2 separate regions of the Homo sapiens genome follow, and region 2 is linked to region 1. The links come from fine-mapping of genetic effects on gene expression. A gene starts in region 1. The other region holds a variant in brackets. All regions are shown on one strand. Distances are from middle to middle. Region 1 holds the start of H2AC25 (H2A clustered histone 25). Region 2 has its middle 140 kb from the start of RHOU.

Evidence for each region. PIP is the estimated chance that this variant, and not a neighbour inherited with it, causes the effect.
Region 2: its variant is the best candidate, but not a certain one, in a credible set for the expression of H2AC25 in whole blood (TOPMed, PIP 0.73).

Annotation. Positions count from the first base shown.
Region 1 is chr1:228,455,978-228,458,895 of GRCh38, reverse strand. It overlaps H2AC25 (H2A clustered histone 25), which reads left to right and starts at 1,023. Exons shown (of 1, transcript NM_033445.3): 1 at 1,023-1,532. The coding sequence starts at 1,079. The coding sequence ends at 1,471. It overlaps H2BC26 (H2B clustered histone 26), which reads right to left and starts at 793. Exons shown (of 1, transcript NM_175055.3): 1 at 338-793. The coding sequence starts at 766. The coding sequence ends at 386. RefSeq lists enhancers at 1-313, 314-900.
Region 2 is chr1:228,878,546-228,881,463 of GRCh38, reverse strand. No RefSeq gene overlaps it. Among named protein-coding and RNA genes, the nearest start is that of RHOU, 140 kb to the right of the region's middle. The variant A/T (reference allele first, on the strand shown) is at 1,305.

The DNA.
Region 1 (2,918 bases):
GCGAGACTTCTTCTAGAAAAAAAAAAAAAAAAAAAGAAAGAAAGAAAAAAAAAAGAAATCTCGTCGTGAGTTAATAGCTCTGCGCGGAGGGAGGGGATGGAGAGGGGGTCCTTGATCGCCTCCCAACATTACTGAGCTACATCACCTGAGCAGTTTCTACCCCGATTTCTGTAACGAGCAGTTTTTCTCGTTCTGTGCCGGCGCGCGCGCGCACACACACACACACACACACACACACACGGCTCAGATTCGGCCGCACCCGGCAACCGCTAGGGTGCATGGAGACACATTAGGTTACATAACCCTTCACCGTGTTCGAAACCCTTTCTTGATCGTGTGGGTGGCTCTGAAAAGAGCCTTTGGGTTCAGGACGCCGAGGAACGCCTCACTTGGAGCTGGTGTACTTGGTGACAGCCTTGGTGCCCTCGGACACGGCGTGCTTGGCCAGCTCGCCGGGCAGCAGCAGGCGAACGGCCGTCTGCACTTCGCGGGACGTGATGGTGGAGCGCTTGTTGTAGTGTGCCAGGCGGGAGGCCTCGCTGGCGATGCGCTCGAAGATGTCATTGACGAAGGAGTTCATGATGCCCATGGCCTTGGACGAGATGCCGGTGTCGGGGTGCACCTGCTTCAGCACCTTGTACACGTAGATAGAATAGCTCTCCTTGCGGCCGCGCTTGCGCTTCTTGCCGTCCTTCTTCTGTGCCTTGGTGACAGCCTTTTTAGAACCCTTCTTGGGCGCAGGAGCCGATTTGGACGGGTCTGGCATGATGGCTGAGTCTCTCCAAACAGAAACGCGCGGCGCTCGGAGTAACTCTATTTGTACGTTTTGTATTCAAATGAAGGCTCAGGATTTGCTCACTTCTGATTGGATCAAACGTTGTTCTACGTCATCGCTGGGAAAGGAATACGCAAATTAGGAGTGCCAGGTTCTTTTTCTGATTGGCTACCATAGCCATCCAATCGAACGCCGCGGTCTAGCCTACCTCTGTACCATACATAAGGGCTCGCTGGCCTTCACTGCCCTCTTGTTTTTAGTCTCGCTTTTCGGTTGCCGTTGTCTTTTTTCCTTGACTCGGAAATGTCCGGTCGTGGTAAGCAGGGTGGCAAGGCGCGCGCCAAGGCTAAGTCGCGCTCGTCGCGCGCGGGGCTGCAGTTCCCCGTGGGCCGCGTGCACCGGTTGCTCCGCAAGGGCAACTATTCGGAGCGCGTGGGCGCCGGCGCCCCGGTCTATCTGGCCGCGGTGCTCGAGTACTTGACTGCCGAGATCCTGGAGCTTGCCGGCAACGCGGCGCGCGACAACAAGAAGACGCGCATCATCCCGCGCCACCTGCAGCTGGCCATCCGCAACGACGAGGAGCTCAACAAGCTGCTGGGCCGCGTGACCATCGCGCAGGGTGGCGTCCTGCCCAACATCCAGGCCGTACTGCTGCCCAAGAAGACGGAGAGCCACCACAAGGCCAAGGGCAAGTGAGGCCGCCCGCCGCCCCCGGGGCCCCTTTGATGGACATAAAGGCTCTTTTCAGAGCCACCTACTATCTCGAGAAAAGAGCCGCACTGATCCTGCAGTTCTTTATAGGCCGGAGGCCTGATCACCCTAGGCTCATGAATGAGCGCAGTGGCCATGGGGAAGGGCGCAACGGGAACCGAGACCCTGGGGACTGATTGGGCTGCATACTTGCGAGGTGGGCAACGTGTTCTGTTAACAACAGGGAACCCTCGTCCACAGGTGGCCACCCCTTGCTCTTGAGTCCCACCCAAAACCTCTAGTAGGGTTTTAATAACGCTCACCGTAAAGGTGTCTTCATAATTACTAGTGACAAGTTCTCTTGACTCTAGCAAGGTTCCCGTGTGGTCATCAAGTACAGAATGCAATTTCTTAATGATTTATCTGATATTAAAAGTATTTATGATCTCTAAGTAGTTTGCACTTTAATTCTGAAGAGTAAGTCTATGGATTTCTATTTAAATTGCTAAGTTTTAACAATGTGAGCTCCACCAGTGTTAAGATTTAATTTATTTGGCTGGGAATTCTAAAGGTCATGAGGAAAGTTTCAGTACTTAAAAGGAACCAGATTAGTAGATGCTGAAAGGTATAAACCTTTTAAGAAGACTTAATTTGGAATAGGATAATTATTTAAAGGAATTTAGTTTGTTTAATTCGGGTTGGTCAAACATTAATCAAAGATCCCCTTAAATTGATTGCTAAAATTGGAGAACAAAATAATTTGTACACTGTTTTTGAAAAGGAAAACTAAATTTGCGAGTTAAGCAAATTTAAAATGAGTATTGTTAGAACCAGATGAATGATGATACATGTGGACTTTAGGAAAATAACGGTTTGTAACTACATTTTTCCTTATAAAATGGAGGGTTTAAGAGCGTCGGAGACCTCCAGGCAAATTAACTGAAATGGCTGTGTTAATAGCCCCTAAATCCTGGAGGAGAGAGGTTCATTGATTTAATCCACGATAATCCCTTAAAAAATGTTTGCCACAAAATCAGAGCTCAGAAAGTGTTATTCTTCTGTTGTTATCTGTACAGTTTTCATTAATCTATTTCTCAAAATATGGATAATTCCTACTTTGTTTTTATTTTTTCTTTAATCCCCAAAGTGCTAGTATTTAGTTAATTGACACCTAACAATTGCATATTATATGGGGTACATAGTGATACTTTGAATACATTTATTATCAGATCAGGGTAATTAGCAATTATTAAGTATTTATTGTAATAATAAATACAGGCCAGTAAAATTATTCAGGAATATTATATAATTTATATTTACCCTACTAAAATTGGGTCTACTCAAGTCAGGGCTTCCTGGACACCAGCTAACCACAAATCTGCATGTCTTTAGAAAATATCCCAGTGCTATGAAACTATTTGAACCAAAAATTGGTAAGCAGCTGCTCCAACAG
Region 2 (2,918 bases), 420 kb before region 1:
ACTGAGCCAGGGATGTGGAGATGAGAGACTGGTGCTTTCCATTTGGGAAAGTTGCTCAAGTTCTTGGGAGTTTAACTAAGCCTTCCTCTGAACTCAGAGCCGACTGATGGGCCAGCATGGAGAAGAGATCGATAAGACACTACAGTAGTTCTCAAGGCAGAGTGGACACAGGTTTCACACAGAGAACTTGCCAATATACCGATTTCCAGGACCCAGCATCTCCAGAGGTGCTGAGATGTCATGTCTATGGCAGGGGCCCAGGGATCTATGTGTTTAACAAGCTCATCAAATGAGCTTGATATAAATGCTCTGTAGGCCCCATTTTGAGAAACACTGACTTAGAATTATTCCATAATATTTATGTAGACTGCTAAGACCAGACACTAGAGATAAAAACATAAAATGTGTTTCCTAGTCACCAGCTGTATTACCCATGTCTTATTTTCTGTATTCTGATGCCGTGATACCTGGGGTCTTGCTGACCATGGCGGGACTGCCCCTGTCAGGTTACTCAATTTTTAGGGATAATAAACAACTTGTCTGTGAGCACACCTTTCATAACAAACCAACCAATCCAGAGCCCACACCCACACTGCCTTCTTTATTGGGGACACTGGATCATATCCACCTGTCTTAATCACCTTGGAGCCAGGTATCAGACAATTAGGGCCAGCCCCTATGCCCCAGAGTCCACGGAAATTATTCAAACTAGCCATTCTTAAGCCTAATTACACTGCATCACCCATTACTTACCATGGAAACCACACTAAAGATTCTTGCCCTTGTTTTTCCCTCGCTCCTTCTGCCTCCCGACCAATCCTCCTCGGTGCCCCCACCCCATTCATGGCATGATCCTTCCTCTTGGAACTGTGAGTAGTAAACTCTCCATCCAAAGGTGATCATCTCATAACCTATTGGACTTACTCTACCTCATATTCCCTACTAATACGATATGTTTTAAAATGCCTTGTGATATTGTGACTTATAATGAGAAATATATTTGGTCTTCATCCCAGTTCCTGGTGTAGAGCTTCTAAAACTTTTGGAATTTCCTACGAGATAAGAGCAATAAAGGTGAAAGGAACACCTTTTGTTATTCATAACAAGTCCCTTCCAATTACACTGTTTCTGTTCACGAGGTGATTTTTGAAAAGCCCAAAGGATGGGGGATCAGTTGCCAGAAGACCCAACCGTGTAGAGAGATGCAATTTCATCCCCACCCCTACCTTTTGGGGAGGGGAGAGGGGCTGGAGATTGAGCTAATCACCATGGCCAATGATGCAATCAATAAAATTTCCCTAAAG[A/T]CCCAAAAGAATGAGGTTCACAGAGCTTCCAGGTGGTAAACACATCCACATACCGGGAGGGTAGCACACCCAGGAGAATGCATGAAAGCACCGCACCCCTCCCCAATACCTTGCCCTATGCAGCTCATCTATCTGGCTGTTCCTGAGTTGTAGTCTTATAATAAACTTGTGATTTAGTAAGTAAATTGTTTTCTATGAGCTGTGCTAGCAAATTATTGAACCTGGGAAGGAGGTGAGGGGGATCTTCCAAATTATAGCTGGTTCATCAGAAGCCCAGCTGTCAACTGGACTTGTGGCTGGTGTCTGAATTAATGGGGGTGGGCAGCCTTGCAGAACTGAGCCCATAACCTATAGGGTCTGCATTAATTCTACGTACAGACAGCGTCAGCATTGAATTGAATGGTAGGATACCCAGCTGGAGTCCACAGAGAATTGGAGACTTGCTTGGTGTGGGAAAAACCACACACATTTGGTGACCAGAAGCAAGTGCTGAATATTGTGGGTATTAAAGAGGTTTTATTAAAAACAATATTTAAACTTATATTTTAGGTTCATGAATACATGTGCAGGTTTGTTATAAAGGTCAACTCATGTCACAGAGGTTTTTTGTACAGATTATTTCATCACCCAGGCACTAAGACTAGTACCCAATAGTCTTTTTTTCCGATCCTCTCCCTCCTCCCACTCTCCATCCTCAGGTAGATTCCACTTATAAGGGAGAACATGAGGTCTTTGGTTTTCTGTTCCTGTATTGCTTTTCTAAGGATAATGGCCTCCAGCTCTATCCATGTTCCCACAAGAGACATGATCTCATTCTTTTTTATGGCTGCATAGTTTTCCATGTGTCTATGTACTACATTTTCTTTATCCAATCTGTCATTGATGGGCATTTAGGTTGATTCCATGTCTTTACTATTGTGAACAGTGCTGCAATGAACATTCACGTGCATGTGTCTTCATGGTAGAATGATTTCTATTCTTTTGAGTATATACCCAGGAATGGGATTGCTGGGTTAAATGGTAGTTCTGTTCTTAGCTCTTTGAGGAATTCCCATGCTGGTTTTCACCATGGTTGAACTAATTTACACTCCCACCAACAGTGTATAAGTGTTCCCTTTTCTCCGCAACCTTGCCAGCATCTTTTATTTTTTGACGTGTTAATAGTAGCCATTCTGACTGGTGTGAGATGGTATCTCATTGTGTTTTTGATTTGCATTTTTCTAGTGACAAGTGGTATTGAGTTTTTTCCATATGTATGTCTTCTTTTGAAAAGTTCTGTTCATGTCCTTTGCCTACTTTTTCATGAGGTTATTTGTCTTTTTTTTTTTTTTTGTAAATTTGTTTGAGTTCTTTATAGGTTCTAGAAATTAGGCCTTTGCCAGATGAATGGTTTGCAAATATTTTCTCTTATTCTGTAAGTTGTCTGTTTACTCTGTTGATAATTTCTTTTGCTATTTTTTTATTCCTCTCAGACCTGCAGCTTGAATCCTAGATGGAGAGATACTAGTCATGAGTATAAGAAAATGACTAAGAATAAAAGATAATGGACTTAGGATGCGAAAAAAACAGTGTGGAAAATCGGAGCTAAAGGGACTGGGTGGATGTGATGTCACC